Regions from separate parts of the Homo sapiens genome. Here region 2 is linked to region 1. A link means that fine-mapping ties the variant in region 1 to the expression of a gene that starts in the linked region. Tissue or cell type: whole blood. Region 1 holds a variant in brackets; the other region holds the start of a gene. All regions are shown on one strand. Distances are between the middles of the regions. Region 1 has its middle 40 kb from the start of AKIRIN2. Region 2 holds the start of AKIRIN2 (akirin 2).

Region 1 (5,381 bases):
CAGAGGCTGCAGTTTGAGCTGAGATCGCACCACTGTACTCCAGCCTGGGTGACAGAGCAATACTCTGTCTCAAAAAATAAAATAAAAAAAGAAAAAAAGAAATAGGATCGTCCATGGCCGGGCACAGTGGCTCATGCCTGTAATCCCAGCACTTTGGGAGGCCGAAGTGGGTGGATCACCTGAGGTCGGAAGTTCAAGACCAGCCTGACTAACATGGAGAAACCCTGTCTCTACTAAAAATACAACTTAGCTGGGTGTGGTGCTGCACGCCTGTGATCCCAGCTACTCGGGAGGCTGAGGCAGAAGAATCGCTTGAACCCGGGAGATGGAGTTTGCAGTGAGCCGAGATCGTGCCATTGCACTGTAGCCTGGGCAACAAGAGCGAAACTCTGTCTTGAAAAAAAAGAAAGAAAGAAAGGAAGGAAGGAAAGAAAGAAAGAGAAAAGAAGAGAAAGAAATAGGATTGTTCAGTAAAATCAGGCATTTTTGTCCTGTCCAGGCAGTTCTGCCTTTACAGGTCAGAGAAAGAAAGGAGAAGAGTTGGTTTACATCCACTTTCTCTTTTTGAGAAGAAAGTCACCCTCTAAACTGCCACATAGGCTATTTTGCTGGGAGCTCTTCCATTGTCTTTTTAAAATTTTAATGTGTAGTAATCTTGACTCTTGAATGAGGGACCATCAGAAAGAACTTCCTAGTCAAGTTGTAAGGGGGCGGAGGTGTAGACCTTGTTCCAGGTTCTGCTCATTTCTTCCCCTGCCCCTCCCAGACCTGTCACAGATTCAGGGCTGGTCAAATCTTGTCCCAAAACCAAAGAAATCTGCCCCAGAAGACTTCTGAGATTGTCACAAGATTTCTAGTTATCAGAACCAAGGCCATCCAGGCCTCCAACTGAATCTAGATAAAAACCATCTGAATTGAGAACATTCTAGAAACAGAGATCAAGGACAGGATGATACTTTGTAACTATGGGAGGGAATATGGCTTCTCATTTTTCAAGAGAAAATAAAAACAAGATTTCTTGACGTTCTTTCCACTGAATGCTAAAGAAAGCTTCATTGTTAGCTGTCTCCTCTCCCAAACAATAAGGAAGCAAACAAAACAGAATAGAACACCCCTGTACTTCAGAGGTCTTTTTTCTCAGTGCTGCATGTTTTATGCATTATGAACTGAGGTTATCTTTTTCTTGTTAGGGTTTACATAGAACCGAGATAGCCATTAGATATTCTGATTATTAAAGAAGTTAGAAATATTTTTTTAACTCTAAAGGGGCTTCTCTTATTTAATTCTTTTAAAAATCTATTACTGTAATGCAGAGCATTGTCTTTGTCATTATAAAGAATTTTTAAAAATGATAACTAATACAGTCTTATTTTTGAAATTGTCTTCTAGTTCAGAAGGGAGAGGGAGAGTAAACCAAGAATATGAAAAAGCAAGAAAAGCATTAAGTGCGAAGGGATCTTTTAAAAACTTGTGTTAGGAGTGGTGGAAGGTAGTATTTCGTAGTGTTCCTAGGATTTCACTAATGAGCAGATTGAGGATACAAATGATTAATAAAACACATTATCTTGGCCTGAAGCATCTTCCAGGCTAGTTGAAAGACAAGCATGTAAATCAATTGATTACAGTTAAAAAGACAAGAGCTTTAAGGAATAGAAATGACATGCTGTGAAAACTGAGAGAAGAGAATGACTAGGTCTGCTCAGGAAAATCAAGAAAGGCTTCACATAGAAGATGACATTTGAGCTGGGTCACCAAATGTGGTAGTTTTAAAATATGTTCACAAATTTTTAGATACTTCTCCTTTCAAGAGGTGGAACTTAACTCCCCTCCCTTTGAGTGTGGACTGGACTTAGTGACACTCAGCCTCCCAAGTAGCTGGGATTACAGGCACCCACCACCATGTTCGGCTAGTTTTTGTATTTTCAGTAGAGACGGGGTTTCACTGTGTTGGCCAGGCTGGTCTCGAACTCCTGACCTCAGATGATCTGCCTGCCTTGGCCTACCAAAGTGCTGGGATTACAGGCATGAGCCACAGCACTTGGTGTCAACTTCTTTGTGCTGTCTACTAGTGACACTAATAGAAAATGGCAGAAGTGACAGTGTACTTCAAAGATGAGGTTATCAGCAGCATTATGGTTTCCTGTTTA[C/T]TCTCTTCCTTGGATCACTCACTGTGAAGGAAGTCAGCTGCCATGTCACGAGGACACTCAAGCAGATCTATGAAGATGACTACATGGCAAGAAAGTAAGGCCTCCTGCCCACAACAGCCACGTGGGTGAGCCATCTTGGAAGTGGCTCCTCCAGTCCCAGTCAGGTCTTTGGATGACTGCAGCCTCAGCCAACATCTTGACTGCAACTGCATGTGAGACCATGAACTAGAACCATACAGCTAAGCCACTCAGAATTCCCAACCCCAGAAACTGTGAGGTAATAAATGTTTATCATTGGTTTAGATCACTACCTTTTGGGATAATTTGTTATACAGCAATAGATTCCTAATACCCCAGATGAGTATCAATTTGCTCTATTGGCAGGTGGGAGGCATCCAAATAGAACTGAAAGGGTCCCAGTGAGTGGTTGAGTATGGCTGGAGTGTAAGACATGTAGTTGTGACTCTTAAGCTTTTAGTGTATTAGCAAATGCCCTAAGTATTCTTAAAAGTGGAATTTCCTTAAATTAATGAATATCGTTGGCCAGGTGCAGTGGCTCATGCCTGTAATTCCAGCACTTTGTGAGGCCAAGGCAGGAGGATCATTTGAGACCAGGAATTCAAAACAGGCCTGGGAAACATAATGACACCCCATCTCTACAAAAGAAAAGAAAAAAAAAAGAATATTGTGGAATATGGCTACTCACTGCACTTTGGGGGAAAAAAATTAAATTTTTTGCCGTGACCTGAAAGCTACTTCTCTAGTTCACCCTGTGTCACAGTCCTCCTTGCTCACTACACCTGAATCACATTGGCTTTCCTTATTCCATCTCCCCCCCAGGAGTTCTGTGCACACAGCTGCTTCTGTTTAGATAGCTCTTCTCTTTACCTTCCCTCTGGCTGACTCCTGCTTCTCTTATAAGACACAGCCTGCATGTGCCTTCAAGGAGATCCCTTTTCTGACCATCACAACTGTTGTTCTTCTCCGTAGTGCTTGTTTGTTTCTTCCATCAGAGGAATTACTCTCCAAACTCATGTTATTTGTGTTATTTGTCTGTTTGCATGTTTTTGTCTGTCTTTCACTCCAGACAGTACATTCCACTATGCAGGGGCCACTTGTTGATTGCAGTATCTCCAACACGTGGCATGGTGCCTAGCGTGTGGTAAGTGCTCATAAAATACTGATTGTAGCTATCTTCCCCTTCCTCTTGTGTAGTAAAACCTTTATATTAGGTATTCCAGTTTCTTTTTTGTTTTGTTTTATGAGATGGCGTGAGCCATCACGCCCGGCCAGATATTCCCGTTTTAAGACTATTTGTCGGCCAAGTATTCCCATTTTAAGACTATTTGTCGGCCGGGTGCAGTGGCTCACGCTTGTAATCCCAACATTTTGGGAGGCTGAGGTGGGCGGATCACCTGAGGTCAGGAGTTCGAGACCAGCCTGGCCAACATGGCAAAACCCCATCTCTACTAAAAATATAAAAATTAGCCAGGAGTGGTGGGAGGTGCCTGTAATCCCAGCTACTTGGGAGGCTGAGACAGGAGAATCGCTTGAACCCGGGAGGCAGAGTTGCAGTGAGCCAAGATCATGCCACTGCATTCCAGCCTGGGCGCAGAGTGAGACCCTGTCTCAAAAAAAAAAATGTAGATTAAACATCTTGGCAGCAATACTTCAGATACAAGGCTGTACAGATACAAGGCTGATACAAATACAGACACAAGGCTGTACTTCATACATACATATATATATGTATGTAACTCACATGTATCATATGTATATATGTATTTATGTATATCAAGAGGTACATAATTTAGTGTCTCTCTTTTGGTGATGCCAAAATTGGTCACTGGGTTTAGGTGGTAACTCCCAGATTTCACCCTGTAAAGTTGTGTTTTTCCCCTTCAGAGTGACTGCCAAGCCATCTAAGGAGTGATCTTTTGCCATCACAAATTGGAGACATAGTAATATCCCACCCATAAATACTTTAGCATATGTCATTAAAATGTAAAAACATTTTCCTTCATAGCTAAAATAATATTATCTCACTGAACAAAATTAATACTAACCCCTTAATATCACCTAACATTCAGTCCATGTTCAAATTTTCTCCCAATTCCCAAAATGTCTTTTATATCTGATTTTCCAAACTGGGATCTAAACCAGAGAAGCCAATTTTTAAATGATCATAGGAAAAACCTTAAAATATATATTACCTTAGATACAGACTTTTCCTTTTAATTTCATATTTTATCCACTAGTTAAAAAGAAATGTTGGCCGGGTACAGTGGCTCACGCCTGTAATACCAGCGCTTTGGGAGGCCGAGGTGGGCGGATCATGAGGTCAGGAGATCGAGACCATCCTGGCTAACACAGTGAAACTCCATCTCTAGTAAAAATACAAAAATTAGCTGGGTGTAGTGGAGTGCGCTTGTAATCCCAGCTACTCAGAAGGCTGGGGCAGGAGAATCGCTTGAACCTGGGAGGCGGAGATTGCAGTGAGCTGAGATCGCGCCATTGCATTCCAGCCTGGCGACAGAGCAAGACTGTCTCAAAAAAAAAAAAAAAAAAAGAAAAAAGAAAAAAGGAAAAAAAGAAATGTTATTGCTGTCATTGCAGTAGGTGAATGTCATATGCATGTAGTTAGGAAATTTACAAATCCTGTTCTAAAATTTTTAACTGAACCGGGTGTGGTTCAGTTTATAGGCTCACGTCTGTAATCCCAGCACTTTGGGAGGCTGAGGTGGGCTGATCACTTGAGTCCAGGAGTTCGAGACCAGCCTGGCCAACATGGTGAAAACTCGTCTCTACTAAAAATACAAAAATTATCTGGGCATGGTGGCACACACCTATAATCCCAGCTACTCGGGAGGCTGAGGCACAAGAATCACTTGAACTCTGAAGGTGGAGGTTGGAGTGAGCTGAGATCACACCGCTGCACTCCAGCCTGAGCCACAGAGCCAGATTCTGTCTCAAAACAATGAAAATAAAAAAAATAAAAAAATAGAATCCTCATCTGGCAGTTCTGGTTCCAAAAAAGTAAAATAAAATTTATCACTAATAACATTATATCCTCATGATTTTTAAGTTCTTACTAACGATAAAGAAATATTAAAATCACTATAAGATTGAAATATGTTCATTCATAAGTTGAATCCAAGTAGTAAATCTTGCCCAGTGGCTAAGAATCAGAAACAGAATCAGCGCCTTGGGTGTAAGCACTATCTCAGCAGAAGA
Region 2 (5,381 bases), 39 kb after region 1:
CTGTAATGCTAGTCTGTAATGCTAGCCTGTAATGCTAGTGGGAGGATCACTTGAGGCCAGGAGTTTGAGACCATCCTCGGCAACTTAGACCTCTGTCTCCACAATTAAACAAAAAAATACTTTCCTCATTTTCTAGGCATTCTGGTATATTTCAAATGATAGCCTGATAACCACAATCCTCTCTGTATTAGTTTCTTACAGTTGCCATAACAAAGTACCACAAACTGGATGGCTTAACCTACAGAAATTTATTGTCTCATGGTCTAGAGAATACAACTCTGAGAAGGTGTTTTCAGGGTTGGTTCCTTCTGAGGACTGAGGGAGAACAACTTCTCTCCTAGCTTCTGGTGTTTTGCTGGCAATCTTTGGCATTCCTTGGCTTGTAGAAGCATCACCCTAATCTCTATTTTCATGTTCATGTTCATGTGGGTCAAAATTCCCTTGGGCCCATGCCTGGGTTCAAATTCCCACCCCCACCCAGTCTCCCCTTCACCCTGGCCTTTTTTTCTTTTCTTTTTTTTTTTTTTTTTTTTGAGACAGGGTCTGGCTATGACACCCTGGCCGGAGTGTGGTGGTGTGATTACAGCTTACTGCAGCCTCAACCTTCTGGGCTCATGCAATCCTCTCACCTCAGCTGCCCCGAGTAGCTGGGACCACAGGTGACCACCACCATGCCTAGTTAATTTTTTAAAAATTTTTGTAGAGATGAGGTTTCTTATCATTGCCCAGGCTAGCCTCAAACTCCTGGCCTCAAGTGATCCTCCCACCTCGGCCTTCCAAAGTGCTGGGATTACAGGTGTGAGCCACCGCACCTGGCCCAAATTTCCTTTTTTGTATAAGAATACCAGTCATATTGGATTAGGGGCCCATCCTACTACATTTAGCTAATTACATTTGAAATAATCCTATTCCTAAGTAAAGTCATATTCTAAGGTACTGGAGGTTAGGACTTCATATGAATTTTGAAGTCCTTGAATTCCCTCAAACATAGGGAATTTAACTCACAACATCACATTTCAAATGTAGGTTTTATAACTTATGGGCAAATCTTAATTTCAGAAAATATTACCAAGTGTTTAGAATTTACTAGAAATTTACCTAGTAGGTGTCTTAGTTAAGCTGCTGTTTCATTAAATGCTTATCTTTTTCAAAAGATTTTCCAAATGTAGGAAATGTAGGATATTTCCAAATATCCTAAATTAAAACTAGAAGGGCTTACTTGTTGACACAGTGTGATCAGGACTGCTGATCTCTGAAGCACTGGACAATTCTATAAAATTGTCTATAAAAAAGAATATATTGAACTACTTCTAAATATGGTTTAAAAATAATAGACAAAATGGCTATAAAACATCTGTTACTGAATAAAGAAGAATACATGAGCACTGGAAATCAGTATTTATAATCATTTGACAGTTGGCATTCACAAAATTGTTTCATATTGCACTGGTGATAGTTTCTACATATATCACTTTTTTTTTTTTTTTTTTTTTTTGAGACGAAGTCTAGCTCTGTCACCCAGGCTGGAGTGCAGTAGCTTGATCTTGGCTCACTGCAACCTCCGCCTCCCGGGTTCAAGCGATTCTTCTGCCTCAGCCTCCTGAGTAGCTGGGACTATAGGTGTGCGCCACCACGCCCGGCTAATTTTTTTTATTTTTAGTAGAGACAGGGTATCACCATGTTGAACAGGCTGGTCTCGAACTCCTGACCTCGTGATCCGCCTGCCTCGGCCTCCCAGTGCTGGGATTACAGGCGTTAGCCACCGCGCCCGGCATCATTTTCTTTTCTTTTCATTTTTTTCAGACAGAGACTCGCTCTATCACCCAGGCTGGAGTGCAGTGGCAACATCTCGGCTCACTGCAACCTTCGCCTCCCGGGTTCAAATGATTCTCCTGTCTTAGCCTCCCGAGTAGCTGCGACTACAGGCGCGCGCCACCACGCTCGGCTAATTTTGTATTTTTAGTAGAGACGGGGTTTCACCATTTTGACCAGGCTGGTCTCGAACTCCTGACCTCAGGAAGATCCGCCTGCCTCGGCCTCCCAAAGTGCTGGGATAACAGGCGTGAGTCACCATGCCCGGCTACACAGATCACTTTCTAAATTAGCGCTGTATTTGATTCTTATTTTAGGTATGTGACTAAAAGTACAACTTCTAGAAACACTTTTTTCCCCTTCCGCTTACAAAATGGATCCATCCAATATCTATTACCTAAACATTTCACTGTCTTTTGATTAGTTTTGTAACAAAGTTCACAATATATGCACCAATATTCAACAGAAGTAATGCAATGTCTGATACCACTTGCTTTTTACCCAACGCAAAACAATTTGATTCTGTAAGTCGTTCAAGTCCTATTCATTTACAGAAGCAAAGCTGGCTTTACAGAATTTCATTAGTGGATGAAGCAGCTACCTCCGAAGGGTAGAGCATCGAGTTGAATCAAGGATCCTGTAACCTGATACTATTACTGTTGTTCTGTCTGCCAGTCCTAAATAGGTTTCATAATCTCATTATCTCCTATCCTCTCCATGTGAAAGGTCTTGTTTTGGGTACTGTCGCTACCGAAATTAAGCTAACTTTGACTAGAGATTGGTTTATTATATTTCCCAGATCTGAAATCACTGTGGGAGCAACTATACGGAGAATCTTAAAAGATTTCTATGTCGCTTAGCCTGCTTTTGCCACGGGTTCGCTTTCCCATCTCCCACTGTCTCAGAACCTTCTCTTTTTTTCTCTTTTGCTTAGTTCCTCTTACACTCAAGCTGTGTAGGGGGATTTAAATTCCAACCCGGAACTCGGAATCGCGCGCCTTGCATGACGGAAGTCGTAGTTTCTGTGACTCCTCCCTTCCCGCCTTTCAAGCCGATTCCTCCCGGTACCTAAAAACTACAACTCCCAAAATGCATCCCCGGTTTGGCCCGCCCCCGTGCGCAAGCGCTCTGAGGCCGCCGGATTTGAATCGGCGGCGTTGTTATTGACGCCATATTGGGGCCGGCGGCGGGTGGGAGAGTTCTACGAGGGAGGGGAAGCGGTTGGACGTGTTCGCTTGGGTTCCTGCTGCGGCAGCTACCTCGCAATCTCTCTGCATCGATCGCCGCTCGCAAGCTACTGACCGTACTCGGGCGTATTAGGAGCCGCGTTCCAGCCTCACACCCCACGGTGCTGTTTTCGACTTCAGAAAGGATCTAGTCTCAGCACAGAAGCGCCTCAGGCGCGGCGCAAAGCTCGAGCGGACGGCGGGGGCGGCCGGAGCCTCTCTCGGGGGAGCCGCGCCTGAGGAGGCGGAAGAACCCCCCTGACGCGACTGGCGTGTGCTTCTGCCCGCCACCGCCCCTCCCGCTCTCACCCGGGCCGTCCCTGGCCACTGCCCCTGCCGCGGAGGCAGCGGCGGCAGCGGCTCTCCTTTCCACAGCCGGCGCTCCGCGACCCGCTTGGCTCCTGAGCCCGTCGGGTAGGCTCTCCTCGAGTTCCCGCTCTTCACCCCTTCCCTCACCCTCTTCTTTCGTCACCCGTCCCCGACCCCACCCGAGCCCGGCGCCTCAGCTGCCCCCGGCCATGGCGTGCGGAGCCACTCTGAAAAGGACTCTGGATTTCGACCCGCTGTTGAGCCCGGCGTCCCCGAAGCGCAGGCGATGTGCGCCATTGTCGGCGCCCACCTCGGCCGCTGCCTCCCCGTTGTCGGCGGCCGCGGCCACCGCCGCCTCCTTCTCCGCTGCGGCCGCCTCGCCGCAGAAGTATCTCCGAATGGAGCCATCCCCCTTCGGCGACGTCTCCTCCCGCCTCACCACAGGTGGGACCCGGCCCCGCGGCCGCCGGGGTAGTGGAGAGAACTGGGAACAGGGGTCCTGGGGTGTGGGATGCGGCCCCTGGGGTGGGGGTGCCGGACTGTGTGGTTCTTGTTCTTAGCAAAGTAGTAGGGCAGCCACGTTTTTCACTAGGTCCTCGTAGCCCGAGGACCTAATAAGACACAATAGAAATGGGCTGATGTCAAGGGGATAGTGTTTGGAGGTGGGTAGGGGCTTTGCCTTGCCCGTATTGGGTAGAACAGGGACATCTTTTTCTTTGGGCCGAATGATTGGAATTGTTTCCGTAGTCGCTGGAGCCCCAGCGGAAATGATCAGAGAGGACGATATTATTCGTAAATTTAGGCGAAAGGGTCACATTTCACCCCAATCTGGATGTGTGCTTGCCGTAATCGATTGGTTGCAGCTATTAACTCTGGGACTGGGTGGTTTGAGGCGAGGCTACAGCCCCTCCTTCAGTTCAGACACGGCTGATTTTAGTATAGTGGGGGTGGGGGGTGGGGGATGGATGTCACTAGGGCGAGATCTAGGCCTGTCATTAATCACCCACAAGAACGCCACTTTGGCTGAGTCAAGACCTGTTTCCCTAGCAGGGTCAACAACAAAGAAAATGCTCTTCCCGAGTACTGTAATATGATCACACTATAAGTCTAGACCTTGAGAAATGTTGAACTTTTAATAAGCATATTGCATTGAAAATTGGGGCTGAGGAGTTGCTTTTATTTGGAAATGTTTTATTTTTGCCCAACAAAGTATGCTGGGGGAAAACAACCTAGCCTTGAGAATAATGAAGAAATCAACCCAAGATTCCAAGGGACTTCAGACTTTTGCTTTTCATCTTGAAACATTTCCTGAGAGAGACTGGGGAATGTCTTTTGGCTGCTTTGTAGGGCATGTGTATGCCCAGTTTTTTCTGTACTTTGAAATCCTTGTGTGCCCCTGGCACAATCCTAGGATAGGCTTTTGTGGACTAGAAGTGTAAATGTTTCCTTTGTGTGTAGCATGCAAAGATTTCTGTGTGAGCCTTTAGTAATAATATCACCCTTTAGACAAAGCCTTTCCATAGCTTGATTTAAATGTCTCGTTATCAGTAGCTTAAAAAACCGAAGTATATACCTCTGTATTTGGTGACTTCCATTTGAAACTGACTTTAGTGTTTTTTTTTTTTTGTCACATTTAAAAATATTTTCTAAATCCATGGAGTGACCCTCGAATATGCAAGCTACCATTTTTGCTATTAAATATTTGGTCTAATTTAAGGACATACTGTTTTAGAGTTGTAGTGAGTTTTTACGGAAATTCTTAGATAAATTTATTTAATGACCTTACTAAACTGTGTTTTAATTAGATTGAAAAGGCATTTGTTGATTAATTGTTAGGCTTTACTTTGGGAAAAAAAAAAGGAAACAGCCAATGTCAAGAATGAGCTACTGGTGGTTGACATTTTTGGAATTTGTCTTTTAGTGAAATGGTATCATTGGAAATTGAAATGGATTCTGTACTTAACTAATAAAGCCATTTCAAAATAAGGTCATTAAGGAGCTAACCAGCAATACATTTCAGTCGAGGGAGTGAAT

What was found.
Region 2: AKIRIN2 starts here. The variant in region 1 is fine-mapped to the expression of AKIRIN2 in whole blood (TOPMed, PIP above 0.99).

The regions. Positions count from the first base shown.
Region 1 is chr6:87,739,104-87,744,484 of GRCh38, reverse strand. No RefSeq gene overlaps it. Among named protein-coding and RNA genes, the nearest start is that of AKIRIN2, 40 kb to the right of the region's middle. RefSeq lists an enhancer at 2,077-2,226. The variant C/T (reference allele first, on the strand shown) is at 2,148.
Region 2 is chr6:87,699,860-87,705,240 of GRCh38, reverse strand. AKIRIN2 (akirin 2) reads left to right here and starts at 3,008. Exons shown (of 5, transcript NM_018064.4): 1 at 3,008-3,791. The coding sequence starts at 3,557. RefSeq lists enhancers at 2,437-2,746, 3,057-3,116 and silencers at 3,277-3,446, 3,627-3,836.